Regions from separate parts of the Homo sapiens genome. Here all the other regions are linked to region 2. Evidence: fine-mapped expression QTL. A gene starts in region 2. Each other region holds a variant in brackets. All regions are shown on one strand. Distances are from middle to middle. Region 1 holds the start of OXER1 (oxoeicosanoid receptor 1). Region 2 holds the start of HAAO (3-hydroxyanthranilate 3,4-dioxygenase). Region 3 has its middle 39 kb from the start of LINC02580. Region 4 overlaps MTA3 (metastasis associated 1 family member 3). Region 5 overlaps MTA3 (metastasis associated 1 family member 3).

What was found.
Region 1: its variant is fine-mapped to the expression of HAAO in lung (TOPMed, PIP above 0.99).
Region 3: its variant is fine-mapped to the expression of HAAO in lung (GTEx, PIP 0.98).
Region 4: its variant is fine-mapped to the expression of HAAO in cerebellum (GTEx, PIP 0.96).
Region 5: its variant is fine-mapped to the expression of HAAO in whole blood (TOPMed, PIP above 0.99).

The regions. Positions count from the first base shown.
Region 1 is chr2:42,760,387-42,766,958 of GRCh38, forward strand. OXER1 (oxoeicosanoid receptor 1) reads right to left here and starts at 3,749. Exons shown (of 1, transcript NM_148962.5): 1 at 2,113-3,749. The coding sequence starts at 3,676. The coding sequence ends at 2,522. The variant T/G (reference allele first, on the strand shown) is at 2,810.
Region 2 is chr2:42,788,847-42,794,822 of GRCh38, forward strand. HAAO (3-hydroxyanthranilate 3,4-dioxygenase) reads right to left here and starts at 3,737. Exons shown (of 10, transcript NM_012205.3): 1 at 3,611-3,737. The coding sequence starts at 3,690. RefSeq lists silencers at 3,584-4,023, 4,204-4,303, 4,384-4,473.
Region 3 is chr2:43,138,277-43,144,848 of GRCh38, forward strand. No RefSeq gene overlaps it. Among named protein-coding and RNA genes, the nearest start is that of LINC02580, 39 kb to the left of the region's middle. RefSeq lists enhancers at 1,719-2,290, 1,913-1,982, 2,291-2,861. The variant G/T (reference allele first, on the strand shown) is at 3,130.
Region 4 is chr2:42,726,927-42,733,498 of GRCh38, forward strand. The region is part of intron 16 of MTA3 (metastasis associated 1 family member 3); the gene reads left to right. Among named protein-coding and RNA genes, the nearest start is that of OXER1, 34 kb to the right of the region's middle. The variant T/C (reference allele first, on the strand shown) is at 3,473.
Region 5 is chr2:42,709,686-42,716,257 of GRCh38, forward strand. The region is part of intron 14 of MTA3 (metastasis associated 1 family member 3); the gene reads left to right. It also overlaps the pseudogene RNU6-137P. Among named protein-coding and RNA genes, the nearest start is that of OXER1, 51 kb to the right of the region's middle. The variant G/A (reference allele first, on the strand shown) is at 2,432.

The DNA of each region.
Region 1 (6,572 bases), 28 kb before region 2:
AGCTTATGTGCATGACTTACCTGACAGCCCAGGCAGAGTCAGCTCTTCAAGCCTCTGCTCTCAGGGTGCATCACCACCTAAAAGACCCTGGCCTGCACTGGGTTGCATTGCGCTGGTTCCATTTGCAGGTCCGTCTCTCCCCGGCTTGGCCGGGGGGAGCTCAAAGTGAGAGTACAGTTGTCTGCCTTTGTAGCTCAGTGTCTGGCCCACGGCAGGTGCCCAGTAAGCACTGGCAAGTTAATGACTGCTGGCCTGTCACCCAGCCCTGCCTGCTTGCCCCCTGCTCAGGAGTCCCTGGAGGAAGGTAATGCATGCCATCTGATCCTCTCTCAGGGGGGCAGCAGATTATGTTAGGAGAAAGAAGAGAAAAAAGGGTGGAAGATGCTGCCCAAAATTCACACTGGATAGTGCAGCCTGTCCCCGGGACCAAAATGCCATTTAGAACCCAAATGTAGGAAATGGGGTCTCCGCCTGCCCCCAGCTCCCATTATACCACCACGGGGTACTACTCCATCTCTAGGAAACCCTACACTTAAACACAGTTTTCTTTCTCTTCCCACTCCTCTTCCTTCTCCCTTCCCTGCTCCACATAATAACTGCCTTCCTCACCAAGTGCTCTGGGCATATAGTTACTCCCATCCCCAGCCCCTGGAGCTGGGCAAGGGCCAGGATTACTATTCCTATTCACAGATGGAGAACTAAGTCCAGAGAAGGGTACAGTGGGCTGGGGCCATAGTTCGGACCAGGGAGTCAGTCCTACCTCCATGTGGCGGCAGCCTGAAGCCTGCTTCGCGAGGGAGCACCCAACCCCGTTTAGAGAAGGCCTTGCAAATGATGGAAAGGCGGGGAAGGGTGGTGTGACCCAGACTGTCAGTGAGGAAGCAGTCCTCAGGGTCAAGATGGGGAGCAAGGAGAATCCAGGGCAGGTTAGGAGTGCGGGCCTGAACCCTGTGACCAGCATCTACCCAGGAACTCCTCAAGGGCAGCCTCTGCTCTCTCCCTTGATGGGAAAAGACAGGACTGCAGACATGCCTGCAAACCATGGGAGTATCTGTCCATTTCCCTTCCATCAGGTCATGAAGGAGTGAGGGCAGGTGCTGGGAGAGGTGCGAGGACTTGAGGGAGGAGTTGGTAGGAGAAGGGTCCAGGGAAGAGGAGATTGAGGAAATGGCCCGTGGAGCTGCCCTGAGCCCAGGTGGGCGCATTCAGGGGCAGAGATGGTACCAGAGGAAAGGTGCCTGGTGTTGAGCTGGCGGTAAGTGTTGGCGCCCCAGGTGGGGATCCACCCGAAGGAGCTGCTCAGTCCCCATCCTCCAGGAGTGTGCAGGCCTTTCCTAAAAGACCTGACTCAGGCTGAGGTGGCCCCGCCCAGGGTTGGACTCCCTTCCCTGTGGTGACAGAGGGCGTGGAGAAGCAGGGACCCCCTAGGCGTGGCTCCAGGGAGTAAAAGGGAGCAGTAGGAGTTGAGGGGGCAAGAGGGGCCCATGGGGAGCCGAGAGACAGAAGAGCAACCCTGGGGGGGGCCCAGGTGGCACCCCAGTACCTTGGTAGGTTTCTGAGTGCAGCAGGTAGATTTTCAGAACAGGGAAGTGGGCTGGAGATACACGGTGGAGGCGGGGTCTGGTACTCACCCGCTCATCCTTCCCGGGCCCACCTCCCTCTGCCTGATACTTTTTCTCTCGCTCCCTCCCCAGCATCCACATGGACCCTTGATGCCACCCTCCTGGTCTGTGTGTGACACTTCTGGGCTTTCACTTCTATTCCTGACGACTTTAGTAGCTGGGGTGCGTCCTGTCCATGATATGAGAGGGCTGGGCTAAGTGGATTGAGGGAACTGGGGAGGGATGTTAGGTCCCCAGCATCAAACTCTGTACCCGAGGGCCTGGAGCCCTGGTGGCCTGCCTGAGGCCTCACCCAAGAAAGCAGTTCTGCCTTTCAGGACATGCCGGGGCTTCCCAGAAGTTCTGGGAAGGACAGTGCCCCCTGGGATGGGGCTGTGGGATGGCTTCCCCACTCTCTCCCAAGTTTCCCTTCACCTTGGGGCGCTCACTTTGACGCCTACTGACAGTCCCAGGTTAGAATTAAAGACAGATATTTGGTCTTGCAAATAAATATATTTAAAAGGGAAGTTTATTAATATTGGAAGGGACAAACTGGAGAGCACAGAACATGCAGCTGTCCAATTTCTAAGGTGACTCTGCTGTGACAGTGATTGGCGTCTGTCCCCTGCAGCTGCGCAGGCCCCTGTCTGAGCTGGTGTGCCAACGGCACCTTGCCTGTCTCCTCCACCCGGCATCCTGCTCTCCCCTGCATTCTGGGAATGCCATCCTGGACACACTGAGAGGCCTAGGTGGGTTTCTCTCCCTGCCACCCACCTGAGTCCTGCCAGTGCTTTGGCCTGGCCCCTGGTCTGCCGCCATCCCTTGTCCAGTTGGTTGAGGCACCGTGTGCTGGCCTTGTCCCTCCAGGCCAGAGCGCGGCAGCCCTTACCCCCACAGCGCTGCAGCCCTGCAGCTGGCCCTCAGCCCTGGGAGGAGCCTTCCTTTTCCAGAGAGACCTCGCCCTGCACTTTCAGCTTCCCTATGGCCTCCGCCTTCCTAGAGGCCTCCCGGTAGCGCCACTGCCTGGAGGGTTGGTAGGAGCTCTCGTCGCTCACTGGGCCCTGCCGGCCCCGCGTGAGGCCCAGCAAGGCCCGGCTCTGGTGGAGGAAGTTGGGGCTAGAGAAGCAGTAGAGCACGGGGTCCAGGACACTGTTGAGGTAGGTGAAGGCCAGGGAGCCATGGAAGAGCTGTGTGCAGAGGTCCAGGGA[T/G]CGGCAGGCGGACAGCCAGAAAGCCACCATGGAAGCCATGCCAAAGATGATGCTGGGCAAGAAGCAGATGGTGTAGACGGCCACCACCATGGCCAGCACACGCATGGCCCTCTGCGGGCCTGCCTGCCCGCCCAGACCACGGTTCCGGATGGTGAGCCCAATGCTCACAATAGCAAAGAGGATGAGCGCCAGTGGCAGGAAGAACTCCAGCAGGTACAGTGCCTGGTGCCAGCGGAGCGAGGCCGAGGGCTTCGTGCCCACCCTGTAGCTGAGGCAGGAGGGGCCGGAGAAGGTGCTCAGGAGCAGGTGCCCGTTGAGGAGCAGGATGCCCACCCAGAGTCCCCCGGCCACCCGGGCAGCTGCCCCCACGGAAGCACGGCTCAGCACGTGGTGGGGCTGCACCACCTTCAGGTAGCGGTTGAGTGCGATGGCTGTGAGGAAGACAACGCTGGCCGTGCGGTTGGTGGACAGCATGAAGAGGTTGACTTTGCAGGCAGCAGCCCCAAAGCGCCAGGTCTCATGGAGGAGGTAGTAGTCCACGCGGAGGGGCAGGTTGCTGATCAGGAGGAAGTCAGCGGCCACCAGGCTGACCAGGAACACCGTGTTGGAGGTCCAGGGCCGCGTGTGGATGCAGAAGATGAAGAGGGCCAAACTGTTCCCCACCAGGCCCAGGACAAACTCCAGGGCCAGGATTGGTGCCAGGAAGGCAGACACCAGCGAGGAAGAGGTGGGGTGGCAGGGCCCTCCAGAGGACCCCCCCACAGTGGTAAAGGCAGAGGGAGCAGAGGAGGGTGAGGGAGAGAAGGAGGGAGGGAGAACAGAGGAGGAGAGAGAGGGAGATGGAGAGCTCAGGTTATGAAGTTCCATGGGCTGCTTGGGCCATGGGCCTGAGAGAAGGTTCTGGAGTCTTCTACCCCTGCAGGAGTGCTCAGGGCAAAGTGGGATGATTGGCACTATCAGCTGGCCACCACGGTGACACAACATCCTGGGGTTTTCATCAGCATTCTCGCAGCCACTGAGAAACACCCTGTGTTCCTGTTTGCAGGCCAAGGGGAACCCTGCAGCCCTCCCTCCTTCCCTCCGCCTCGGGGTACTGAGTGATCCCACCACATGAGGTCTCTGAGCCCAGCCTGGGGGTTGTGCTGCTGGTAGAGGAGGAAGCAGGGCTCAGCAGGGGCAAGATGGAAGCCCAGAGAAACCCTGAAGTGGGAGGATAGTCCAGCCGGGTGAGGTGGGGGCTCTCAGGATCATGCAGCCCTCCCTGGACACCCCCTCCTCCACTACATATAGAGGCTGGTGGCTGCCTCCCTGCCCCCACCAGCTCTGGCTTCAGGGACTGTGGAGCCAAAAGGACATTGTCCTGAGAGGTAGGCAGGGAGTCAGTGAAGACCTCCACCGCCCTGCTGGTGGCCTGGAGGGAACCAGTCCTATTTGTGCTCCGCCAGCCTGCTGTGTGTCTGAAAGCCCACTGTAGTTCAGCTTTCAGTTGCTCCCAGGTTCCTGATGGTTCCGAAGTCTGTGATGGTCCCAAGTCCGGGTACACGGTGAAGTAGGCCCCATGGACGGGGACGCCCCTGCCAAATTTCTACTGCCATGGCACGGGGAGCTGGGGGCTTCTCCCGCAAATAGAACAATCCTGATTTTTCCCTGTCTGTGTCTCCCCATGGCTCCTTGTCCACTCCACTCCTTGCCCCCATTAGCATTCACTGCGGAATAGGGAGTGGGAGGCTGGGGCTAGCTCCAGACAAGGTACAAGTCCAGCTGTCCCATGGTGAGGTATTCTCATGAGCCCATGGGCTGGTCCTGTGGGTGGAGATGAGGGCTTCAGGCTCCTGATAACCCGGGACAGCAGGGCCAAGGGAGGTGCTGGTTCCAGGCTCCAGGGCCTGACCCCATCACTGCCAACTGGCTGGGGTCAGCAGTCTGCCATGTGTGGCCTGGCCTCTGTGTCCCAGGCACAGTGGCCCCTGGCCTCTCTTGGCTGCCCTGGGCTCCCATTTGGTCAAGGCTGAGGGCAAACATCCCTGGGAGAAGCAGGGTGGTGAGGCCCAGCCTAAGCTCCATATGCAGACAGGCCTGGGTTGGAAACAGAGCTGCCCTATTTCCAAACCTCTCTGAGCCTGATCTGTAAAATCAGGCACTACCACCTTCTTGGAGAGTTGTGAGGATAAAATGAGATAATTTATGTAAAAACTTATAGGCCAGGCACAGTGGCTTAAGCCTGTAATCCCAGCACTTTGGGAGGCCGAGGCGGGCAGATCACGAGGTCAGGAGATCGAGACCATCCTGGCTAACACGGTGAAACCCCGTCTCTACTAAAAATACAAAAAAAGTAGCCGGGCGTGGTGGCAGGTGCCTGTAGTCCCAGCTACTCGGGAGGCTGAGGCAGGAGAATGGCGTGAACCTGGGAGGCGGAGCTTGCAGTGAGCTGAGATCGCGCCACTGCACTCCAGCCTGGGCAACAGAGTGAGACTCCGTCTCAAAAAAAAAAAAAAAAAAAAAAACAAACTTCTAGGGGATTCCTTGGGACAGAGCGAGTGTTCACAAAAACAGATCTAATTTTCATGACTTTCTCTCTGGATTAAGCTTGCCCTGCATATGAGAGTAAACTCTTCTCTTCACGGCCATCGGTATTCTGACCTGGGTCCTCCCTGGAACATTCTATGTCTTCTTCTCAGGTCCTGCACGGAGCAGTGCATTGCTACAGGCCAGGAACGAGCCGCGTGGAGCCTCTGCCTGTGCCTATCCTGGACCATTTGTGTTTGAAGGAGCCTGATGGTGTTTTTTCTTTGCTTGCAGGAGAGGAAAGCCCTTAGGGGTGACGAGGAGGTTGAAGGTCCCGATGTCTCTTAGGGCCAGTAGCCTTTTCAGCAAAGGCAGGTCTTTCTCTGCTCCCAGTGGAGTGTAGGAAGGCAGTGAGCCACTGGGCTGGGGATGAGGGAGACAGGGGTCAAGTGTTCTTTTCTAGAGGAAGCTTTGAGTCCACGCAGGGACCTGTTCTGTCCAGATCTGTCACTCTCATGTGCATGCCCTCATTGACTTCTCACGGAAGTCCCAGGAAACTGAGCTGCGCCCGCTGCAGGTTCCACATTCTTGTCTCTTCCCACTGGTGCCTCTGAGGCCTCCAGCATCCCTAGACACCCATAGCAGGCTCAGGGGTCCCTCTGGAGTCTTTGAACAGGGCACCTGTGCATGACAGGGGAGGGAAGGGGACACAAGGCCAGACACCCCCACCAACACTGCTGAGCTCCTGGTACAACTTCATGCCCCTCTCCAGGCTGATCATAGTCTTTAGGTATTAACAGTGGTTAGCTCTGGGTGGGGGATTTTGTGTATTTCTGGGTTTTCTATAGTTAGCACAGATGACTTCTGTTATTGGAAAAAAACTCAACAGATGCTAGTGTTTTAAAGTTATGTAAAAAGACAGACTGGGCAACATGGTGAAATCCCCATCTCTACAAAAAAGAAAAAAAAAATTAACAGGGTGTGGTGGTGCATGCCTGTAGTCCCAGCTACTCAGAAGGCTGAGGTGGGAGAATCACTTGAGCCAGGAGGGTCAAGGCTGCAGTGAGCTCTGATCACACCACTGCACTCCAGCCTTGGTGACAGTGAGATCCTGTTTCAAAAAAAAAAAAAAAGTAAAAAGAATAAATGAGAACAGAGAAGGAAGTGGAGAGATGACATTAGCCGTGCTCCCAGGACCAGGCATGGAGCATGCGTGGATCAAGTCACACACACAGTGAAGAATGCCCATCCACAAACA
Region 2 (5,976 bases):
ATCGTCTGACCCAACAAGGGAAATGATGTGGTGGTGAATCTATGGCTTCATCAACCAGGATCACAGGATCAAGATCTCGAATTACAGGAGAGTAGCAAATTGAAGACCCCTTCCCAGGATGGGGCAGTGTAGGGGCAAAACGACCTTGACCTGCCACTCACCCATGCTGTCTGACTATAGGACCCTGCACTCTCCCCTGGCTGGAGGCATGGCTCAGTGGATGCAGGAGACCGTGACATCTAGCAGGGGCCTCAGGCGGTGTCAAGTCAGTGTGGCATGTGTTTATAAGCACAGGCCCTGGGGCATGTTACTAACCTTATCTGTAAAATAGAGGAACAGTTCTTACCTCACAGAGTTTAAACAGAATACATGAATTAATATTTGGAAGCTCTCAGAATGGTGCCTAGCATATAGTAAGCACTATTTAAGTATTTGATAAAATAAATAAACCCGGCCGGGCGTGGTGGCTCATGCCTGTAATCCCAGCACTTTGAGAGGCAGAGGCGGATGTATTGCTTGAGGCCACTAGCCTGGCCAACATGGTGAAACCCTGTCTCTACTAAAAATACAAAAATTAGCCAGGCCTGGTGGTGGGCACCTGTAATCCCAGCTACCTGGGAGGCTGAAGCACGAGAATCGCTTGAACCTGAGAGGTGAGGTTGCAGTGAGCTGAGATTGCGCTACTGCACTCCAGCCTGGGTAACAGGGGGAGACTCTGTCTTAAATAAATAAATAAATAAATAAACTCAATACAACCCTCTCATTTTACAGCCGATTTAGCCAGCCAAGAGAGGGTCACAAAGCCAGGGAATGACTGAACCTGAGCCAGGTCTCAGGCTCCTTGACTCCCACGCTGGCGTTGGGTCTGTGGGGCATCTAGTCAGCTGTTTGGAACAAAAGGGTTCCCAAACTCCTCAGTCTTTCTGCTGTTGGTGTGGTGTTACCTTTTTATGCAAAAAATACCTCAGCACCTCCTGAGAACAGCCTGCCCCATCCCCACAGCAGGGTCCCCTTTCAGGGTGCAGACACTGGGGTGAATAAGCAGCAGAATGTGTCTGTGTAGGGCTTCAGGGTGTTCTCAGGTGGCCCTGCCACAGAGGGCAGGGGCAAGGGCTTTCCTCTGGGAAGGGGAGGCGCTGGGTCTGGGACCATTTGTACACACAGGGCACAGCAGCCTAGAGGCTGCCTGCATGGATGACGATGGTGTGGATGGCAGGGGAGGGGCTATGGGGGAGGTCTGAGCCCCCAAACTAGACTGGCAGGTCCTTTCTGAGTGTCCTGTCCTGTGGGCTGCTTTCCAGCCCAGCTGGGAGGCATGGAGGCAAGACGGAAGAGCCAGTCTCTTTCCTTTTCCTTCCCTTTTGGGAGGCTGGGCCCAATAAACCGGAAACACACGTGTGGACCTGATGTTTGGAAAGGTGGATGAGGTTGCAGGGCAGGAGAAGGCTGTCATGAACAGTCCATGCTTAAAGAACTTAAAGCTGCATAGAGCTTCAAGGAGGGGAGGGAAGCCGCAAGGAACTTGACTGGGGAAGAGTGTGCACAGGAGAGCTGGGTGCAGAGGCTCTGAGATTAGAAGCACTGGGGGTGAGCTTGGGGAACGATTGAGAAGGCTGGTCCAGGAGGGTGGACCAGCCATGGAGTCTGGTCTTGGCCTAAGGGGTGCTGGGGAACCTGGAAAGTTTGTTTTTTTTTTTTTTTTTTCAGATAGAGTCTTGCTTGCCACCCAGGCTGGAATGCAGTGGCACAACTTCGGCTCAGTGCAGCCTCCACCTCCCGGGTTCAAGCAATTCTCCTGCCTCGGCCTCCTGAGTAGCTGGGACTACAGGCGCGTGCCACCACGCCCAGGTAATTTTTGTATTTTTAGCAGAGACGGGGTTTCACCATGTTGGCCAGTCTGGTCTTGAACTCCTGACCCCAAATGATCCACCCACCTCAGCCTCCCAAAGTGCTGGGATTACAGGCATGAGCCACTGCGCCCGGCTTGAAAGTTGTTTTTTAAAATCAACTTCACTGAGATGTAATTTAGGTACATACAGACAATTCTTAAACAACTCCACTCAAGAATTCTTTCAACCCATCAGTCAGAATGCATAAACCAGACCTGCCCCTCCTCTGCCCAGAACTCTTCAGCAGCTTCTCACCTTGCTTGCTTCAGCAGCTTCTCACCTTGCTGAATAGTAACCCCTCCTGTAAAATTTATATGTTGAAGTCCTAACGCCCAGTACTGCAGAATGTGACCTTATTTGGAATAGGGTCCTTGAGATGTAGTTAGGTTAGGATGAGGTCATCCTGGAGTAGGGTGAGCCCCTGATCCAATATGTCTGGTGTTCTTTTAAAAGAGGGAAATTTGGACACAGACACACACACAAGGAGACTGCCTTGTGAAGACGAAGGTGGAGGTGGGCGTGGTACAGCAGAAGCAAGAATACCAATGATGCCAGCAAACCACCAAATGCTAGGGAGAGGCCCGGGCAGATGGACGCGAGACCTCAGGGGGAGCGAAGGGAGGACTGAGAAGGAGCGACTGCAGATGGGGATGAAGTGTTGGAAGGAGGCAAAGATGATGCTACATCTTTAATTGGGGGTGGGCAACAACAGTGATAGAAGAGATCTTTGGGGAGATATTGACTGTTGGCCATGTGGTATTGCATGGTAACCAAGAGTGTGCGTGGACTCTGGAGTCGAACTGCTCCGTGGGTTGAGTCTGGAGCCTATCGCACAGGCGCTCCGTGACACTAGAAAAGTTACTTATGAAAATCCCCCCTCACGGTGCTACTGTGAGAATGAGATGAGATGATGTAAAAACACTTGGCATAGTCCTGGGCCTGCTGTTTGCCTTGAGGTGCCACCCTACTGACCATGTCCTGTGGACACAGCAAAAATGGGGAATGTAAACCTTGATCTAGCTGGCATGTGGGGCCCCGCCATGGAACTGGGGGGATGAGGGAGGTGACCATACCACAGGGGAGGGCCTGAGAGGTCTGCCTGAGAAAGATGGCAGCTGGATGGCCAACCCTGTTGGGTGCTGCAGGCAGAGGCTACTGGCAGAGGTGGCCTAGGGAGGGTCTGGTGTGGTGTGTGTGTGTGTGTGTTCGTGCACACCTGCATAGAGGGGCCCTGAAAAAAGCAAGACATCAAGATCTTCCCAAAGGAGCGGATTCTCTGCCTCCCCCTTTGCCTGTGGCTTCTGGGACAGGGTTGGGGTGTATGATTTGGCTGCCCCCAGGCCTACATTCTAGTGCATTTCTGCCTTGAAAACCACCCTCCCCACACTTTTGAGTTTTCCCAAAATGCACAGTGTCACTTGGGGTTGGAGAATTGTTTCTCAGCCCTGGAAGGAGAGGTGCACCCTGTCATGTCATCTCCTACAGCCTGAGAACCAGCTCAGCCTTCTTCAGAAGTCAAGGCCACAGTCACAAGAAAGAGGAACAGACCGATGTGGTGGAACCGGAACAGCCTGTCTCCATCTTCCCCCAAGAACCAAGAGATTAAAGCGGTCCTTCTGCAAGCTTCTGGGTCCAGGAACTCGGAGCTGGAAGGTGAGGGCGCAGATGGAGGAGGGGGAGGAGGCGAGGGCAGGGGGCGGCCATGGGGGTGCTGGACTCACATGAGCTTGTTGCAGACCGGGGGCTGGAAGGAGCCCCGGTTCTCCTTCACCCAGGCCCTCACTCCCAGGCGGCGCTCCATGACTGTCCCGGGCGCCTCCTCGCAGCGCTGTCCTCCCGCCGTCGGAGGCCCGCAGCTCCGCCCAGCCGCCTTTTTAACCAGAATCCCAAGCTCACGAGGCGGAGCAAACCCCCGCGACCCCGTGGTGGGGGCTTGGGGCCCGCGGACTTTGCCCCCTGGTGGACTTTGGTCTGAGCCCGCCGCCCTCCGCGCCACTCCAGGCCCTGGCGAGCGCGGCGGCGGCAGCGCTGGGGAACGGCGTCCCGCGCCCTCTGCTTCTCCGCGGGGCAGGGGCTCGGTCCCCGCCACCGTCTCCGGGGCGCCCCACACACTGGCGCCTGCGGTGGGGCCTGCTCCCGGCGGAGGACAAAGAATCCAGACCCTTCCTGGACGCTTGTCCCCAGACGTTCCTTCCCTCTACGCCCCGAGGGGAATCCCAGGGAAGGTTCCCAGAAATACTACAGTGAGGAGATCGCGGGTTGGAAGTCCCAGCACCTGAGAACACGGTGCTGGCGCTGGGCTCAAGATTTGGCTTTCCCATCTGGAAAAGGGGAATGACTGCCCCGCCACTCAGGGCTGCGGCGCTCACCCAGCGGGAAGCCGCACGGCGGTCCCCGCAGGTCCCGATTCAAGGTGAGCCCCAGACCTGCTGCGTGCGGCCGGCAGACTCCGCCGCGGGCTCGGCGAGGGGAGCGGTGCAGGCGCCGAGCTGCGGAGCCCGGGCTCAGGGCAGGACCGCGAGCCCTCCCCACCTGAGGCCCAGCCGAGCGGCCGCTGTCCGCGCAGTGTCGCAGTGGACCCCGAGCCCCGTGCTGAACTCCTTAGGCGTCTTAGGAACATACTCAGTTCGCACGCAGCTATGGGAGGAATTTGGCAGATGTGGACACCGGCCTCAGTGTCCTAGCCCTCGGGAATCTCGGGGTGTTAATGATGACAGCCCCGTGTGAGAGACTCTAACAGTTATCCTGGGGGTGAGGGGCTGGGGCGCTGGGCCTGGGCGTGCATGTGTGAGGAAAGAGAAATCTGCGCGGGTGTGGAAGATGGAGAAGCCTGTCTTTCTGCAGGACTCAGAACTTTCTTAGGAAGTTTGGAGGGAGTGGGAGCTGACGGGTAGGGGAGGAGGAAAATGGCTCAGGCCCCTGACACCGGAATCCAGACTATAGAGTTTAAGAAACTAAACGCCTCTAAATCCTGCCCTCACAGCCCGCCTGGCCTGGGCTGGTTTTCTCAGCATTCCAGACATAAAGACTCCTCTAGTACAACTCAAAATCAAAACCCAGACGACAGGAAGCCGAATTCCCCACTGAGACCCTCCCGTTTCCTCTCTGACGCTCTTTTTTTTTTTTTCATTTTTCTCTCTCCTTTTTTTTAGTTATTTATCTAGCACAGTTTTAGCTGAGCACTTCTAGTGCAAAACTAGAATATCGTTTTGCACCCAAGTAACTCACACCACCTTCTTTATTTTTCTCATCTACAAGTAATCAGAGGAGACGTAAACAATGACACATGAAGCACTGAGGATCTGAGATGTGTTAAGTTTGCTTTGAGTGTTAGTTAAATGGAGGGATGGGTGAGTGGGTGGATGAAGGCATCAATGAATTCACACAAAAAGGAGAAAAAATTGATTTCAGCCCAACAGATGTTCCGTTACCATAGTGCAAAGGAAAGAATGATAGGTACTCTGTATTTTAACTGATGTGATCAAATAATGTGAATAATTAAGGCCACAAGTAGAATTTTGGGGGTCTGAAATATCCCGAGTAACCCTCTACACAAGCTAAATGACTGCTATGTTATCACTATCAAATATGCCCTCTGATTTGTGCTGTGTAGAGCAAATACCACGTCTGGTCTACTGAATTGGCAAGCCTCCTGGCTCAGGCACCACTGGACTCCAATGTTCAGAAAACGGACAGTTGCTATGTTGTGAGTATTCTGGCATTGTTGAGTTGGAACCATCTGGAATCCTTCTGGATACTGACTGTTGGGCCCCTTGTAGTTTCTGGAATTTACCCGCTTCTAGGAGCCACCTCTCTCCTCTGCACACAGGAGCTCATCTGCACTAAAGGATTAGAAGCAAATAGAATCTACCCCACGATCCAAGCTCAAAGGATCTGGCCTGCTTGCTGGTGTCTTCCCCTGGCCTCCGCTGGGTGGTGTTTGCCTGCCCAGGTCACTGAGACCAGCAGATCCTTCTAGGCTTTGCTGAACCTGGCTGGTAATAACTATCTGACCCTTCAATTCTTCCATACACTGAACTCGTTGCTCCAGTGAATCCCTTTCCCAGCCCACCTTGTTTTGTCTCTG
Region 3 (6,572 bases), 350 kb after region 2:
ATTGTGCCACTGCACTCCGGCCTGGGCGACAAAGTGAGGCTCCATTCCCCGCCCTCCCAAAACAAAAAATAGAAGGGGAGGGACCAACCCTGAATGAGGCATCACCATGTTCCAGGAAATTGCAAGCACAATATTCCCTTATTCTCCATCAACCCTGGGGAATCATTCCCATTTTACAGATAAGAAGATGAGATCAGAAAGGGGATGACCTATGGTGGTTGTAGATTGTCTGCGAAGATGGTCACTGACAATTCCTCTCCTCTCTGTATTAGAATGCTGTTCTTCCCTTCAAAAGGTGGAGCCAGTTCCGCACCACACACACACACATACACACACACACACACACACACACACCTGCATACCCCCACCTCTTCCTTGGCTCTAGGCTGCCCTTGTGACTTGCTCTGACCAATAGAATGTGGCAAAAGTGATGCTGTGTCGGTTCTGGCACAGGCTTTAAGAGGCCTATGCCTAGGCTTATACAATTTTTGGAATTCAAAGCAAAATGAAAATGTGGAGCCCCTTATTCAAAAAGCAAGATAAACATTGTTAGAGGCACTAAAATATAAAGCTTTCTCTTTTGATAGTCTCTCTCCCTTAACTCACCATGGTGTTTTTAACTTGCTATTTAATGCTACCCTAATAAAAAAGCTAAAATTTGAAAATGTTACTATGAATTTTGCTGTTCAACTTTATATGGTGCAAAGCCAGTTTTAAATGCAAAAAGAGCATTTAGCTCATATGTACAATCATCAGAATTATGCAATTCATATTTCATAGGTCATACATGCATATATATTTCATTCCTACCAGAAGAGTGGGAACACCACACAAAACTAACAACTTTTTTTTTTAAATTTTTTATTTTTTAGACAGAGTTTCATTCTTGTTACCCAGGCTGCAGTGCAGTGGCGCGATCTCGGCTCACTGCAACCTCCACCTTCAAGCAATTCTCCTGCCTCAGCCTCCTGAGTAGCTGGGATTACAGGTGTGTGCCACCACACTTTACTAATGTTTTTTTTTTTTTTTTTTTTAGTAGAGACGGGGTCTCACCATGTTGGCCAGACTGGTCTCTAACTCCTGACCTCAGGTGATCCACCTGCCTCGGCCTCCCAAAGTGCTGGGATTACAGGCATAAGCCACCGTGCCTGGCCAAAACTAACACCTTTTAATTTCTCTTCTTGCTATGCATATATTCTACCAACACTCTCTTCCTTTGGTTTACTGATGAGTAAGGACAGATGAAAAGAAAAGGAATGATCTGTACAGAGATGAGAGACCAGGAACAGGGTGGACATGCATTTTATGGACTTCCTCTGCTCATGCACATGCACCATTGTCTTAACTTACAAAACACAACACCATGGGCAGGGCGCCATGTCTTGTGCCTGGAGTCCCAGCACTTTGAGAGGGTGAAGAGGGAGGAAGCCCAGGGGCTCGAGACCAGCTTGGGCAGCATAGCAAGACCCTGACTCTACAGAACATTTAAAAATTAGCCAGGCATGGTTATGTGCACTCGTAGTCCTAGCTACTTGGCAGACTGAGGCAGGAGGATCCCTTGAGCCCGAGAGTTTGAGGCTGCCATGAGTTATGATCACACCACTGCACTCCAGCCTGTGTGACAAAGTGAGACCCTGTCTCAAAACACACACACACACACGCAAAATTCCCTGCAACACTATGTAGAGAAAAAGTGAGCTGTCCTGTCAATCCCTGCCCAAATTTTAGAATCGTGAGCAATAAACAGTTGTTATTTTGAGCCACTAGGTTTTGTGGTGGCTTCTTACACAGAAGCTGATGACTGATGTAATGGTTGAGATCACAAAGCTAGTAAAAGACCAGGCTGTGGTTGAACCCACATTGGTCTGAATCTCAAGTTCACACTCCTCTCTACCCCACCCAGGTTTCCTTACAAAGCTTTCATAGTGTTACTCCTTCTCTACTCCATGGTGAGTTGGTAAGTTTAGGGTTGAGCTAGGGGGTGAAGGTTGCTTCGCTGCAACAAATCAAAATTATTATTAGAACTTGGAAGAAGCCACATCTGGACTTGATGTGGCGGACAGGAGGTTGGTGGACGGGTCAGGGCTGAGAACAGGCCCAGCCTCTGTCCAGGGTGAATCTGGGCCCAGCGGGGTACTGGGACATCTGTTTTCCATCCTGATTCGGAAACTAAAGCTGCTTTCCTCTGCCTACCCCATCCTCCACCTCTGCTGACCCTACAGGAAATGGGAGTTGGAAATCTGGCTGGCCAGCAGCGGCGCCTCCTCCGATGGGAGCTCTCTGCCTGCCACAAGATTCAGAGTGCAAGGGCCTCGGGCCGCCTGTGCTTCTGCACACTCTCTCCCTCTTCCCCACTGAACCAGCGGCGAAGGGAATTCTCAGGGTCCCCCTTGGTCAAGGAGTCAGGTTTTCCCCTTTTAACTGATGGCTGTTGTTCCTGCTGCAGCTATTAGCATACCAAATTAGTAAGGATATTTTAGCGACAAGAAACAGAACTCCTATTCAATTGGCTTAGACAAGAAGAAAAGTGTGTTATCTCACAGTGATAAAATTCCTTTTTGAGATGGAGTCTCGCTGTGTGGCCCAGGCTGGAGTTCAGTGGCGCTATCTCGGCTCACTGCAAGCTCCGCCTCCCAGCTTCACACCATTCTCCTGCCTCAGCCTCCTGAGTAGCTGGGACTACAGGCGCCCGCCACCACACCTGGCTAATTTGTGTATTTTTAGTAGTGATGGGATTTCACCATGTTGGCCAGGCTGGTCTCGAACTCCTGACCTCAGGTGATCCACCCGCCTCAGCATCCCAAATTGCTGGGGTTACAGGTGTGAGCCACCACACCCAGCCTTTCCTCTGTATTTTAAATCATCTTTAGATTACTTTAAATACCTAATTATAATGTAAATGGTATGTACATAGTTGTTACAGTACATAAATGTACACACTATATTGTTCAGGGAATAATGACAAGAAAAAAGTCTGTGTATTCAGTACAGACACAACTTTTTTTCAAAAACTTTTTTTTGAGACAGGGTCTCCTGTCTCCCAGGGTGGAGTGCAGTGGTGTAATCTTGGCTTACTGCAGCCTCTGCCTCCCTGACTCAAGTAATCCTTCCATCTCAGCCTCCCAAGTA[G/T]CTTGAACTACAGGTGTGCGCCACCACACCCAGCTAATTTATTTTTGTATTTTTAGTAGAGATGGGGTTTCACCATGTTGCCCAGGCTGATCTTGAACTCCTGGGCTCAAGCGATCTGCCTGCCTCAGCCTCCTCATATTTTTTCAATTTTTTTTTTTTTTTTTTTTTTTTGACAGTCTCACTCTGTTGTCCAGGCTGGAGTACAGTGGCGCAATGTCAGCTCACTGCAACCTCTGCCTCCTGGGTTCAAGTGATTCTCCTGCCTCAGCCTCCCAAGTAGCTGGAAATACAGGCGTGCATCATCATGCTCAGATAATTTTAGTATTTTTAGTAGAGACGAGGTTTCACCATATTGACCAGGCTGGTCTTGAACTCCTGGCCTCAAGCAATCTGCCCGCCTCAGCTTCCCAAAGTGCTGGGATTACAAGCATGAGCCACCGCACCCGGCCCGCAAATGTTTTTGATAGCAGTTGGTTGAATACACAGATGAGGAACCCACAGACACTGAGGGCCGACTATATAAAAACTCAGGGATTGAGGCAGAGACTTTGCTTCCTCATCTGAGCACCTGTTGAGGTTGTTAAGAGCATCAGTGTCAGAGTTAGGCAGACTTAGGTCTGAATTCTGACCCTGTCCCTTTCTGGTTTTCTGATCTTATTCAGGTTGTTTAATCCTCCTGTAACACAATTTCTTTGTAGGTAAAATGAGGATAATACCCATCCCTGGACTGTTTTATTAACCAATACATTGCCTGGCATATAGAAAAGGGTGAAAAAGGCCGGGCGCGATGGCTCACACCTGTAATCCCAGCACTTTGGGAGGCCAAGGTGGGCGGATCACCTGAGGACAGGAGTTCAAGACCAGCCTGGCCAACATGATGAAACCCCATCTGTACTGAAAATACAAAAAAAATTAGCTGGGTGTGGTGGTGCATGCTTGTAATCCCAGCTACTCAGAAGGCTGAGACAGGAGAATCATTTGAACCTGGGAGGCAGAGGTTGCAGTGAGCTGAGATTGTGCCACTGCACTCTAGCCTGGTGACAGAGCAAGACTCCCTCTCAAAAATAAAAATAAAAAATAAAAAAAAGAGAAAAGAAAAAGGTGAAAAAATATTTTAAGCATGTGGAACCATGTGACCCAATCTGGCTATCTCCTTCTGCAATGCCACCCTCCTCTTCTTCCTGAGTCCATCTCTCTCCTCCCAGTTCAATCCTCAGTCCCCAGCTTTAGGCTCTCCCCTCTTAGATCCCTCCCACCCCTTACCCACAGCACTCCTTGTCTGGGCTTCCCCACCTAGCACCTAGACAGGGTGTCCCATCCACATTTCAGACAAGGCAACAAGATTCCTCCATGGCTGCCCATGCCTCAGAATCACTGCTTATCAAGCCCAGATGTGTCCACACTCCAGGCCCCCCTTCCTTGCCATCCCCATGAATACTGACTTCTTTGTACTTACTTGTCAGGGTTCTTGGTTGCAAGCAACAGAGAACTAACTCACGGACTTCTAGGGCTGGCTAGAGAGCCAGGCTCACAGCAACCAGGGAGGGCTGGACGGCAGCCAGAACCCCAGCCCAAATCACGCCTTGAGGACAGACCAGGGAGGACAACTGAGTAACCAACCTGAGGACTGGCCCTGCGGCCCCACTGCCCCGACACCTCCCTCCTGCTGCTGCTGCTGCCTCCACTTGGGGCAGATGCACTCCATCTCTGCTTCTTTGTGTCTTCTGCCTGAGTCAGGGTTGCTGAATGTGTGTGTCTGATTGGCTGAGCCAGGTCACAAGCCTGCAGCAACTGCAAGGGAGGCTGGGAAAGTGAGGCCTGGTGCCTAGAGTCTGCCTCTTGGGGAGACTCACAAGGTCAGGAAGGTTCCAGACAGAGGCCAGAGAGTCTGGAAAACATAAAGGTGGGCCAGGCGCAGTGGCTTACACCTGTAATCCCAGCACTTTGGGAGGCCGAGGCAAGAGTATCACCTGAGGTCAGGCTTTCAAGATCGGCCTGGCCAACATGGTGAAACCCTGTCTCTACTAAAAATGCAAAAAATAGCTGGGTATGGTGGTGCGTGCCTATAGTCCCAGCTACTCGGGAGGCTGAGGCAGGAGAATCGCTTGAACCCAGGAGATGGAAGTTGCAGTGGGCCAAGATCATGCCACTGCACTCCAGCCTGGGCCAAAGAATGAGACTCCGTCTCAAAAAAACAAAACAAAACAAAACAAAAAAACATATAAAGGTCCCCTCTGCTGGGTAAGAAACCATTTGCTCCTGGGGCAGGGCCTGTGTCTGCCTATCCCAGCCCCCACCCCAGCCTCAGGAGTGGCTGTGCTCTCAACAGGGCGCAGGAAACCTTCCTCAGGTGAGGGGTCCCAGAATTAGAGACCACGGGAGCTGGAGGGGCCATATAGGGGCATCTCTACAAAAGAAGTCCGTGGACTAACATTCAACCACCCAGTTTTTATTTTGTCAAGTAAGAATATCAGAGAAATAATAAACCATTTTTTTTTCTTTTTTGAGACAAGATCTCGCTCCGTCACCCAGGCTGGAGTGCAGTGGTGCAATCTCAGCTTACTGCAACCTCCGCCTCTTAAGGCTTAAGCAATCCTCCCACCTCAGCCTCCCAAGTAGCCGGGACTACAGGTGCACGACACCATGCCTGGCTAATTTATTTATTTATTTTTTTGTTGCCCAGGCTAGCCTCGAACTTCTGGCCTCAAGTGATCCTCCTACCTCAGCCTCCCAAAGTGCTGGGACTGCAGACATGAGCCTAGGCTAACAAATCACTTTCTCCTGGCACCATCATTTCATCAAAAAAGAGACAAGCGACATCTTAAACACCAAAAAAATAAAAAGAGAGGAGAGCAGGTTTTAGAATAGAGCATAATCCTTTAAGCTAAATACATATTGGCTTTAAGAAAACTCATTATATTGCCCTGAATTTCCAGGACTTTTCAGGACTTTTGCTGGAAACCTGTGAAAAGATCATGACACAGCTGAACTTGAATATGGGCTGTGGATTAGAGAATAGTATTGGATCAATGCTGAGTTTCCCGTGTCTACCATGCAGGAGTTACGTAAGTCTTGCACTGTAAAAGAGCATCCTTGTTCTTAGGAAATACACCCTGAAGTATTTAGAGGTAAAAGGGCATGATGTCTGCAACTTATTCTTAATTGGGAAATTTCAGGAAAAAATTACACATACACACATCCACATTCACACACATAAACATATATAAAGAAAAATAAAGTAAAAGGGGTAAAATGTAAACAATTAGTATATCTGCAAAAAAGTTATACTAGAGTCTTTGTAGTATTGTTGCAACTTTTTGGTAAATTTGAAATTATGTCAGAATTAAGTTACCCAAAAAAATGTTAGCAGTGAGTTAGCAGTGAGCCTCAGGGTTGGTTTTCCCTTGGTACATTACCTATTTTGGAAGTGTTTGAAGTTTTAT
Region 4 (6,572 bases), 62 kb before region 2:
TTGCACTGGTAATCCCAGCAACTCTGGAGGCCAAAGCGGGAGGCTCACTTGAGCCCAGAATTTGAGACCAGCCTAGGCAACACAGTGAGACCCCAACTCTAAAAAAGTTTTTGTTTTAAATTAGCTGGATGTAGTGGCATGCACCCACAGTTCTAGCTACTTGGCGGGGGCTGAGGCAGAAGCATTGCTTGAGCCCAGGAGGTTGAGACTGCAGTGAGCTATGATTGTATCACTGTACTCTAGCCTGGGTTACAGAGTGAGATCCTGTCTCTTAAAAAGAAAGAAAGAAAGAAAGAAATCTGCATACGCAAGAAGCCTCAGTACTCAGTGCAAGGAGTCAGTAATGATAAAAAGAATAAAGGTTCAAAATTAGAGATCTGCACAGTGCCTTGCCAGTCTCCCTATACTTCAGTCTTTCTCCCTAGGATGTCGGTCCAGCAGTGTGCCGTATGCTGTCATTGTGGTTTCCAGTCCCATCTCCTCCACTGTGGACATTTTTACTGCTAGCAAACCAGGTATCACCTACTATGTTTGCCCTACTTGGTTAACTCCAAGTGGCTGTGAGTAGGTGAGGGCTTAGGCCAGCAGGGATAGAAGAGCCATTACTGGAAAACATTTCCATGTCAGAAAGCCCTGAAGAGAAGGCAGCAGGGGGAGATGGAACTTGTCTGTGCCATGGGGGGAAAAAGGGGTATCTGAGTGTTTGGAATCAGTTAGGATTAATTGCTTACTCCTCTGATTGCTTCTTGTGTGACCTTGGGTGAATCACATGGTTTTTTTTTTGGATGAGTTTTCTCCTCTATAAATCTGTAGAATACAGATGACATTTGCCTTACAGAATTGATCTTACGATTGAAAATTTTCATGTGCTTTATTTTTTAATTTTTAATTTTTTGTGGATACATAGTAGATGTATGTATTTATGGGATACATGAGATGTTTTGATACAGGCATATAATGCTTAATAATCACATGAGGGTAAATGGGTTATCCATTACCTAAAGCATTTATTCTTTCTTTGGTCACAGACAGTGCAATTTTACTCTTTTAGTTATTTTAACATGTACGATAAATTATTGTTGCTGTAGTCACCCTGTTAGCTATCAAATACTAGATCTTATTCATTCTATCTAACTATATTTTTGTACCCATTAATCATACCTCCTACCACTATCCTTCCTACCTTCTGATAACCACCATTCTACTCTCTATCTCCATGAGTTCAATTTTTTTAAATTTTTAGTACAAGTAAGTGAGAATGTGCAGTTTGTCTTTCTGTTCATGGCTTATTTCACTTAACATAATGTCCTCCAGCTTTATCCATGTTGTTGCAAATGACAGGATTTCATTCTTTTTTGTCTGAATAGTACTCCATTGTGTATATGTACCACATTTTCTTTATCAACTTGTCTGTTGATGGACACTTAGGTTGCTTCCAAATCTTGGCTACTGTGAATAGTACTGCAGTAAACATGGGAGTGCAGATATCTCTTCAATACGCTGATTTCTTTTCTTTTGGGTATATAACAGCAGGATTGCTGGATCATATGGTAGTTCTATTTTTAGTTTTTTGAGGATCCTCCAAACTGTTCTCATAGTGGTTGTACTAATTTACATTCCCACCAACAGTGTATAGGGTTCCCACCAACAGTGTATGAGGGTTCCCTTTTCTCCATATCTTTGCCAGCATTCCTTATTGCCTGCCTTTTGGATAAGAGCTATTTTAACTGGGGCTAAATGATACCTCATTGTAGTTTTGATTTGCATTTCTCTGATGATCATTGGTGTTGAACACCTTTCCATATGCCTGTTTGCCATTTGTATGTCTTCTTTTGAGAAATGTCTTTTCACACCTTTTGCCCATTTTTAATCAGATTATTAGATTGTTTTCCTATTGAGTTGTTTGAGCTCCGTATATATTCTAGCTATTAATCCCTTGTCAGATGGATAGCAGATATTTTCTCCCATTCTGTGCATTGTCTCTTCACTTTGTTGACTGTTTCTTTTGCTGTGCAAAAGCTTTTTAACTTGATATGATCTAATTTGTCTATTTTTGCTTTGGTTGCCTGTGCCTGTGGATATTACTCAAGAAATATTTGCCCAGAACAATGTCCTAGAAAGTTTCTCCAGTGTTTTCTTTTATTAGTTTCACAGTTTGAGTTTTTTTTTTTTTTTTTTTTTTTTTTTCACAGAGTCATGCTCTGTTGCTCAGGCTGGAGTGCAGTGGCACAATCTCGGCTCACTGCAAGCTCTACCTTCCGGGGGGTTCATGCAATTCTCCTGCCTCAGCCTACCCAGTAGCTGGGACTACAGGCGCCCACCACCACGCCCGGCTAATTTTTTGTATTTTTTTTTTAGTAGAGACGGGGTTTCACCGTGTTAGCCAGGATGATCTCGATCCCCTGACCTTGTGATCCACCTGCCTCGGTCTCCCAAAGTGCTGGGATTACAGGCGTGAGCCACTGCGCCCAGCCCAGAGTTTGAGGTCTTAGATTGAAGTATTTAATTTATTTTGATTTGATTTTTGTATATGGCAAGAAAGAGGGGTCTAGTTTTATTATTCTGCATATGGCTATCCAGTTTTCCCAGTGCCATTTATTGAAGAGACTATATTTTCTCCAATGTATGTTCTTGGCACCATTGTTTTAAATGAGTTTAAAATGAGTTTATACTGTAGATGTATAGATTTGTTTCTGGGTTCTCCATTCTGTTCCATTGGTCTGTATGTCTGTTTTTATGCCAGTACCATGCTGTTTTGCTTACCATAGCTCTGTAGTATAATTTGAAGTCAGATGAAGTGATTTTTCCAGTTTTGTTCCTTTTGTTCAGAATAGCTTTGGCTATACTGGGTCTTTTGTGATTCCATATAAATTTTAGGACTATTATTTCTATCTCTGCGAAGAACATCATTGGTATTTTGATAGGCATTGCATTGAATCCATAGATTGCTTTGAGTTAGTATGGACATTTTAACAGTATCGATTCTTCCAATCCATGAATATGGGATATCTTTGCATTTTTTGGTGTCCTCTTCAATTTCTTGCATCAGTGGTTTATAGTTTTCATTGTAGAGATCTTTCACTTCTTTTTCAGATTGTTTAGTGTTGTCATATAGAAATACTACTGATTTTTGTATGTTGATTTTGTATCCTGCAACTTTACTCAATTTGTTTGTCAGTTCTAATAGCTTTCTTGTGGAGTCTTTAGGTTTTTCCAAATATAAGATCATATCATCTGCAAACAAGGATAATTTGACTCCTTATTTTCCAATTTGATGACTTTTTTTTTCTTGTTTTATTGCTGTAGCTAGAACTTCCAGTACTCTGTTAAATAACAGTGGTGAAACTGGGCATCCTTGTCTTGTTTTAAATCTTAGAGGAAAGGCTTTCAGCTTTTCCCTGTTCAGTATGATACTAGCTATGGATCTGTTATATATGGCTTTTATTGTGTTGAAGTGTGTTCCTTGTATTCC[T/C]GGTTTTTTAAGGATTTTTATCATGAGGGGATGTTGAATTTTATCAAATGCTTTTCAGCCTCAATTAAAATAATCAGATGGTTTTTGTCTTTCAGTTGATGTGATATATTACACTGATTGATTTGTGATTGACTTGCATGCTTGCATTCCTGGGATAAATCCCACTTGGTCATGAGATAATCTTGTTAAATGAATTGTTGAATTCAATTTGCTAGTATTTTGTTGAGGTTTTTTCGTCAGTGTTCATCAGGACATTGACTTGTAGCTTTTTCTGATATGTCTTTTTCTGGTTTTGCTATCAGAGTAATACTGGCCTTGCAGAATGAATTTGGAAATATTTCTTTCTCCTTTATTTTTTGGAGTAGTTTCAGTAGGATAGGTTTTAGTTCTTCTTTAAATGTTTTATAAAATTCAGCAGTGAAGCCATAGGGTCCTGGGCTTTTTTTCTTTGCTAGGAGACTTTTTATTATGGCCTTGATCTCATTACTTGTTATTGGTCTGTTTAGGTTTTGGATTTCTTGATGATTCAATCTTGGTAGGTTGTATGTGTCTAGGAATGTATCCATTTCTTCTAGCTTTTCCAGTTTGTTGGCATTTAATTGCTTATGATAGTCTCTAATGATCCTCTGAATTTCTGTGATATCAGTTGTAACGTCTCCTTTTTCATCTCTGATTTTATTTGTGTCTTCTCTCTTTTTCTCTTTAGTCTGGCTAAAGGTTTATTGATTTTGTTTATAATTTCAAAAAATCACCTTTTTGTTCCATTGACCTTTTGTATTGCTTCCTTCATTTTGATTCAACTTATTTCTGCTCCGATCTTTATTATTTCTTTTCTTTTACTATTTTGGATTTAGTTTGCTTTTGCTTTCCTAGTTCTTTAATATGCACTGATTAGGTTATATGAAGTATTTCTAATTTTTTGATGTAGGCTTGTATTAGTCTGTTTTCACACTGCTGATAAAGACATATCTGAGACTGGGAAGAAAAAGAGGTTTAATTGGACTTACAGTTCCATATGCCTGGGGAAGTCTCAGAATCTGGTGGGAGGCCAAAGGCACTTTTTACATGGTGGCAGCAAGAGAAAATGAGGAAGAAGCAAAAGCAGAAACTTCTAATAAACCCATCAGATCTCGTGAGACTTACTCACTATGACAAGAATAGCGTGGGAAAGACCGACCCCCATGATTGAATTACTTCCCCCTCCCACAACACATGGGAATTCTGGGAGATACAATTCAAGTTGAGATTTGGGTGGCGACACAGCCAAACCATATCATTCCACCCCTGGCCCCTCCAAATCTCATATCCTCACATTTCAAAACCAATCATGCCTTCCCAACAGTCCCCCAAAGTCTTAACTCATTTTAGCATTAACCCAAAAGTCCACAGTCCAGTCTCATTTGAGTCAAGGCAAGTCCCTTCTCCCTATGAGTCTGTAAAATCAAAAGCAAGCTAATTACTTCCTAGATACAGTGGGGGTACAGGTATTGGGTAAATACAGCCGTTCCAAATGGGAGAAATTGGCCAAAACAAAGGGGTTATAGAGCCCATTCAAGTCTGAAATCCAGTTGGGCAGTCAAATTTTAAAGCTCCAAAATGATCTCCTTTGACTCCGGGTCTCATATCCAGGTCATGCTGACAAAATGACCTGGTACACAGTGTAAACTGTTGGTGGATCTGCCATTCTGGGGTGTGGAGGACGGTGGCCCTCTTCTCACGGCTGCACTAGGCAGTGCCCCAGTAGGGACTCTGTGTGGGGACTCTGGCCCCACATTTCACTTCCACACTTCCCTAGCAGAGGTTCTCCATGAGGGCCCTGCCCCTGCAGCAAACTTTTGCCTGGGCATCCAGGCATTTCCATACATCTTCTGAAATCTAGATGGAGGCCCCCAAACCTCAATTCTTGACTTCTGTGCACCCACAGGCTCAACACCATGTGGAAGCTGCCAAGGCTTGGGGTTTCCACACTCTGAAGCCACGGCCTAAGCTCTACATTTGCCCCTTTCAGCCACAGCTGGAGCAGCTGAGACACAGGGTACCAAGTCCCTAGGCTGCACACAGCACAGGGACCCTGGGCCTGGCCTATGAAACCACTTTTTCTTCCTGAGCCTCCAGGCCTGTTATGGAAGGGACTGCTGTGAAGACCTCTGACATGGCCTAGAGACATTTTCCCCATGGTCTTGGGGATTAACATTAGGCTTCTTGCTACTTATGCAAATTTCTACAGCCAGCATTAATTTCTCCCCAGAAAATGGGTTTTTCTTTTCTATCGCATAGTCAGGCTGCAAATATTCTGAACTTTTATGCTGTTTCCCTTTTAAAACTGAATGCAGTACCCAAGTGACCTCTTGAATGCTTTGCTGCTTAGAAATTTTTTCTGCCAGATATGCTAAATCATCTTTCTCAAGTTCAAAGTTCCACAAATCTCTAGGGCAGGGGCAAAATGCCACTAGTCTCTTTGCTGAAACATAACAAGAGTCACCTTTGCTCCAGTTCCCGAGTTCCTCATCCCCACCTGAGACCACCTCAGCCTGGACCTTTTTGTCCATATCACTATCAGCATTTTGGGCAAAGCCATTCAGCAAGTCTGTAGGAAGTTCCAAACTTTCCCACATTTTCCTGACTTCTTCTGAGCTCTCCAAACTGTTCCAACCTGTGCCTGTCATCCAGTTACAAAGTCGCTTCCACATTTTCGGGTATCTTTTCAGCAACACCCCACTCTGCTGGTACCAATGTACTGTATTAGTCTGTTTTCACACTGCTGATAAAGACATACCCGAGAATGGGAAGAAAAAGAGGTTTAATTGGACTTACAGTTCCATATGGCTGGGGAGGCCTCAGAATCATGGCAGGAGGTGAAAGGCACATCTTACATGGTGACAGCAAGAGAAAATGAAGAAACAAATGCAGAAACCCCTGATAAACTCATCAGATCTTGTGAGACTTTTTCACTATCATGAGAATAGCACAGGAAAGACTGGCCGCCATGACTCAATTACCTCCCTCTGGGTCCCTACCACAACATGTGGGAATTCCGGGAGGTACAATTCAAGTTGAGATTTGGGTGGCGACACAGCCAAACCATATCAAGGCTCTTTTT
Region 5 (6,572 bases), 79 kb before region 2:
AAACTCATTTTTGGGTGAGTTTTCTGAAATTACACATTGCATTTTCATAAGCTAGCATCTAAACATATGGTTGAGCAGCCTGTTTGTCCAGTTTGGTTTCCATTTCATGATCATGTATCATATATATCACCACATAACATTTACATGACTTACTACTCTTATTTTCAACACATTTGGTCTTGCTTATCTTTTTTATTTTTATTTTTGTTAGCACAGAGATCATATGTGTCCATGAATTGTGGATCGTTTTGTCATTACCATGTCTCTGACAATATGTGTATAATTAATATGTTAGCTCTGGAGTCACATTCCAGGCTAGCATGTTAGAGCCGTGCAGCTTTTGTTCCTTAAGGGGTGACAAAACTTGCTGTCTGGCCTAACAGATAGGAAATCCTAAAGCCATTCTAAGAAATCTCTTACTATGAAATGTTCCCCTTTGATTTAAAGAGGATATCAATAAAAGGAATGATGACTGAAAAAAACATTTTTTGTTCCTAAAGATAATTTTTAGCAGAATAGTTGAAAGGCTTTAAAACTTAAGTAGCAGCTCTATAAGAAGAAAAATGCTTTGTAAAGGGAGTTGAGGGCTGGGCGCGGTGGCTCATGCTTGTAATCCCAGTACTTTGGGAGGCCGAGGTGGGTGGATCACCTGAGGTCAGGAGTTCGAGACCAGCCTGGTCAACATGGTGAAACTGTCTCTACTAAATATACAAAAATTAGCCAGGCGTGGTGGCAGGCGCCTGTAATCCCAGCTACTCAGGAGGCCAAGGCAGGAGAATTGCTTTAAACCGGGAGGCAGAGGTTGCAGTGAGCTGAGATTGCGCCATTGCGCTCCAGCCTGGGCAATGAGCGAAACTTCATCTCAAAAAAAAAAAAAAAAAAAAAAAAAGAAAGTGGTAGCAATGTCAGAGTCCCACAGAAGGGGGATTACTATATTAGATTCATGTATATTTGAGAGTTTAGGCTTATATTTAGGTTTTGTGCTAGCATTTGAGACCTCATGGACTTACGTTACCACTTTCCCATTTTGGGAATTAGAAATATTTATAGTCTAAATTGTTCAGCTCATTTAAAACACATTTTCATGTAATTTTTTAAATAAAATGGTGAAGACCAGTCACGGTGGCTTACGCCTGTAATCCTAGCACTTTGGGAGGCCGAAGTGGGCAGATCACCTGAGGTCAGGAGTTAGAGACTAGCCTGGCCAACATGGTGAAGCCTCATCTCTACTAAAAATTCAAAAATTAGCCAGGCATGGTGGCACACGCCTGTAATCCCAGCTGCTTGGAAGGCTGAGGCAAGAGAATCACTTGAACCTGGGAGGCAGAGGTTGCAGTGAGCTGAGATCATGCCACCGCACTCCAGCCTGGGCAACACAGACTCCGCATTAAAAAATAAATAAATAAATAAAAATTAAAAAGTAAAACATTTAAGAATGAAAATGAATGAGACTTTTCCATTAAGATTGGTGGGGATCCAGTATCATCTTTGTCCTAGGACTAGAAGAGAAACCATCAGCAACTCAGTTGGCTGCTGAGGAAACTCTGTTTCCCCAGGGCTTGTGTGTTAATTTTCAGTTAATTTGCACATTATCTTTGTTTTGATTATTCTTCAATGAAGTATATTTTTCTTTTATCTCGTTCTAATTTTTTTCTCAATTGACGGGCCATGCTGCTAAAAGGGATCATAATTAAGTTACCTGTATTTTATTTCTATAAGCATATAGATTATAGTAATCATAAAAGAGCAGTCGTCTATCTGGATGAAATTCAGAGAGCATGTATTATTTTGTTTTGTATTTAGCTTCACTGGTCATTGAGTTGTACATAATCAGATTCTTAAATAATTTTACCTTGAGATTTAAAATGACAGTGTTTCAGCAGCCGTCTACTCTTTTTTATTTTTCAGACAAGCAATGAACTTTTCCTAACATCTAATTGATTATGCTATCATCTCTTCTGTTCTTATACTTACCTTGTTACAACCTCTTCAGCAGATGTCTTGATCTTGGCTTGTTAGGGAGATTAGGTATTAATAACCTGATGTCCATAGGCAACCATGTCTGTGATCTACTGGGAGTGTATAGGAGAGAGAGAGAGTGTGTGTGTGTGTGTGTGTGTGTGTGTGTGTTTTCCAGTAAGTTTTCCTTAGTTTCTCAAAGGCAGTGTTAGGCCCTCCTCCACCCTGCAGAAAGTTAAGAATCGCTGTGATGCAATGTGAATGTACTTTCAGATAAGGCTGAAGTGTGTTATTCTCAAAATATTGATGGATCTAGAGTTCTAATTAATGCATTTTAGAATAATTTATTAGTTCTTCCCTGTGAGCTTGAGACTCTTCCAAGCACTGTAGAAGGTGACCTCTTCAATTGCCTCTGGCCACGGCAGCACCATCACAACCAGTGTCATAGTCAGTTTATGGGATGACACTGCAT[G/A]AAAGTGAAGAAATGGGAGCTTTTTAAACCTGTATTAAAGCAAATAGTAAAAACAAAAAAGGTCTTTGCAGATTCATAAAATATCTCAAAGAATATGTAAAGAGTAATGACATCTGAGGTAAGGGAACCTGGGAGGGTGAGGGAAAGGGGTGGGAAGATTTACCACTCTTCATCCATATATAGGAATTTTTTTTTTTAAGAGACGGTCTTGCTCTGTTGCCCATGCTCTGGAGTGCAGTGGTACCATCATAGCTCAGTGCAGCCTTGAACTCTGGGGCCCAAGTGATCCTCTTGGCTTCTGAGTAGGTGGGACTATGGGTGTGGCCCACCACACCGGTTAATTTATTTTTTTTAGAGATGGGGCCTCACTATGAAAAATTTATTTTTTAAACCAATTTCCCCAAATACCTAAATATTATTTTAATAATCTTTATATGTGAATGTATAAATCCATGCCAAAAGTTACTAACATTGGTAAAATGCCTGAGCCAGTTCTACCACGTAGACAGTACTTATTAAAAATGGATTGGTAGACCAAAATTCTTCATTGCATAAAGAAACGTACTGTTTTCTTAAGATTTGTGGCCCAACAGCAAGGTTATAAAATACCAAGTTTGGACATCGTGCTCACTTCAGCAGCACATATACTAAAAATTGGAATGATATGGGGAAGATAATCATGGCCCTGAGCAAGGATGACAACACAAATTAGTGAAGTGTTCCATATTTTATTAAAAAAAAAAAGTTAGCCGTCTTTTCTTTTTTCCCCCCTGAGGTCCCTCCCCCTAGTAAAAAAGCTATGTATGGGAGAATGACGTTCCTCTGTTATTGTCATCAGACGTTATTTCAGAGACTTCACCAAAGATCTACAGAATCATCCAAACACCTGATGCACACAGGATTATCAGCACTTGAGACTCAGGATCCTCACAGACTGAGGTTAAATAGAAGTAGGTTTACTAGCAACATTCCAAAGATGAAGCTAAAGTGCCTGGAAAAGTAAATCCGGATGATTTGCCTGGCACCTTGGTGGCTTGCAGAGAGAGTGAAGTGGTTTGGGCTGATAACATACCAGACTTGAATGGGCCACAGTATTCCCCTGTATGAGGTTATTTGGGAGGAACCTGAAGCTATTTTTCTGTTTGAAGAAGCTAATTTGGCTTTGGAAGTATCTCAAGACCCCACTTGATGAAAAATGTGTTTTATGAGATTTTTCTAGAGATTTCTCAGCTAAAGTTAATGAGTATAAGCTTTTCTGAAATTTTAAGCTTGAATCATGAGAGAATAGTTGGTTTGCTTCTTTTGGTATTTTTGGTAGAGAGTTTAAATTTTTTTTTTAGTATGTGCCTTGTGGTATAAGCCGAGGGAGTTTAATAAAAATTTGGTTTTGAATGGATACTGAAAAATTTTTCTAAAGGTACAAAAGTGGTTACAAATCTCATCACGTTCCTCATTCCTGATTTACCCCATTCAATGATAACCATTATCATCGTTGCCTTAAGTATCCAAAAAATATTCTGTGCATCTATAAGAGTCTAAGTAGGCTTATTGTTTGTTTCTATATGATATTAACATACTGTCTATATTGCTCTGTCCCTTGCTGCTTTTTACTTAACATACCGTGCCACTGTATTGAAAACTGCCTCCTTTTTGTGTCAGCTGCATAATCTATTTTGTTGTACCATAACTAGTTTCCTATTAAAAGCTTTTAAGTTATTTTCAGTCATTTTCTATCATAAATAATGTTGCAACAAATATCCTTATGCAGATATCATTTCATACTGATGTATAAAATGGGAATGTTCCTTACAAGATAGATCCCTAAAAGTTAAAGTTGGGGCCAAGGAGCATACATTTTGAATTTTGGTGTAGTTTTATTGCCCGTAGAAAAACTGCAATTCACAGTCCCACTCACAACATCTAGACAATTCCTATTTCTCTAGAACTTTGCTGGCAGTGTTACCCATCTTTGAAACCCGTGACTAATTGACAGATGACAAGTTATATTAGCTTGCATTTCTCATTTTGAATGAGATAGAAATCTTTGCCTATATTTGAAAACCATTTATCTCCTTTTCTGTCAACTGTTTTTGCCCGTGGCCTGTTTTCTATTGGCAGTCTTACTGACTTGTGGGAACTTTTTATATTTTAACAAAGTTATCTCTTAATCTGTGATATGTGATACAAATAGTTCCCCCGTTTTCTCTTTGACTTTATGGTGTATTTGCCAAGCAGATTTTTTTTTAAAAAAAGACATATTAATAGTTGAATTTATAAAAAAAAAATCATGAGTTTTGTGGCTTCTTTAAAAATACCTTTCCAGTTCTAGAAGCAAACTCTACTGATAGTTTTATCTTGACAGGGTTCTTGAATGCACATGTGGGATGTTTTTGTGAATTCTGTGTGTATATTGCAGGGTTTCCATCTCACTGCCCCCAGTATTTCCAAAACACTGTAGAAAAATAACCATGAGTTTCAACAAAAGTAATAGTGTATTTCTAGGTTAACCCCAAGGAAATATAGATCATCCTCTAGGACAGTGGTCCCCAACCTTTTTGGTACCAGGGACAGGTTTCATGGAAGACAATTTTTTCATGAACTGGGTGGTGTGGGCCGTGATGGTTTTGGGATGAAACTGTTCCACCTCAGATCATCAGGCATTAGTTAGAGGCTCATAAGGAGCAGGCAATCTAGATCCCTCGCATAGCGGTTCACAATAGGGTTAGCGCTCCTATGAGAATCTAATGCTGCCACTGACCTGACAGGAGGCGGAGCTCAGGCGGTAATGCTCACCTGCTGTCCGGCCCAGTTCCTAACTTGCTACCACTAGTACTGGTCTGAGGCCTGGGGCTTGGGGACCCCTGCTCTAGGAAACTAAAGACATGTTCCTTGTGACCAGTCAAGTGACTTGAGTGAGATATAGATGTTCTCTCTGGACAGGTTTTGATTCCTTCTGGGTTCTTTGGGGATTTCTCAGATTGCTTTCATTATCTGTGACTTCAAATGCATATCTCCCTGTTGAAGTGGAGTTAGGTGAGTAATTTGGGAGCAAGGACTGTCTGACAAGTGGCAGCATTGTTGGCCTGGCATTGAGTGCAGCCCAGCATTCCTTCTAACCAACTCAAGTGTGGGCCAGACAATCCCACCTATGGCTATTTCCTCAGGGCCAACTGTATTTTTCCTACTGAATGGCAACAACTTTTCTTATGTTAAAGAGTGACTAAGGCAGTCCTAGAATCTTTTCACTCTAATTTTTTCACAGTTGAGACATAATTCTTGCCACCAACTACTTTTTTTTTTTTTTTTTTTTTTTTGAGACAGGGTCTTGCTCTGTCACCCAGCCTGGAGTGCAGTAGCGTGATCATGGCTCACTATAGCCTCTAACTCAAGGGATCCTCCCTCCTCCTCCTCCTGAGTAGCTGGAACTTTCTATAAAATATTATGAGGATTAGTGAAATATGCTTCTTTCTAAAAAGCTTTGATCTCCCATTCAGAGGTACTCTGTAATGCAAATTGTCACTTAGAACATCATATAATTAATCCTCCTATTTTTAATGAGAAATTAGAAGCAAATATAGTTTAAAATGAAGTATCTTTGGGTATTGTGTTGGTGACCTCTTTGATGGATTTGTTGATGATAGCCATCAATGTCTATCAATTGCTGCCATATTGGCAGTTTTCCTTTGGGTCATCTAGACTGGAATAAAAGGCAAATCTTATTACTAGTAATATGGTGATTGCCTTTGTCAAGACATTGAGGAAATAACCAAGATGACTCATTCCAGCTTTATTAATAGAGAAGAAAGAAAAATTTATCTTGTCCTTATCCCAAATATAACTTGAATTTCAGGTGAATCAGTAATATTAGCAAGAAATTATGTAGTGTTAACTCAATGGTTTGGCAGGCGTTTGATCCTTACAGGCTTTGGGTTGCTTCCTAGTGTTTATTTAGATTACTCTTCCACAAGATGTTTATTATATTTCTGCCTGTATCTTCACTATTATTCAACAATAGGTGAAAAGCTTCATAGCTTAGTAATTTATTTTTTCTCCTGGGAATCACCTGAATAGGAAGAAAAGAAATTGGATCATTTATACTTGTCAGTGGTTGCATAATAATTAGCCAATATCTGGGTGCTAT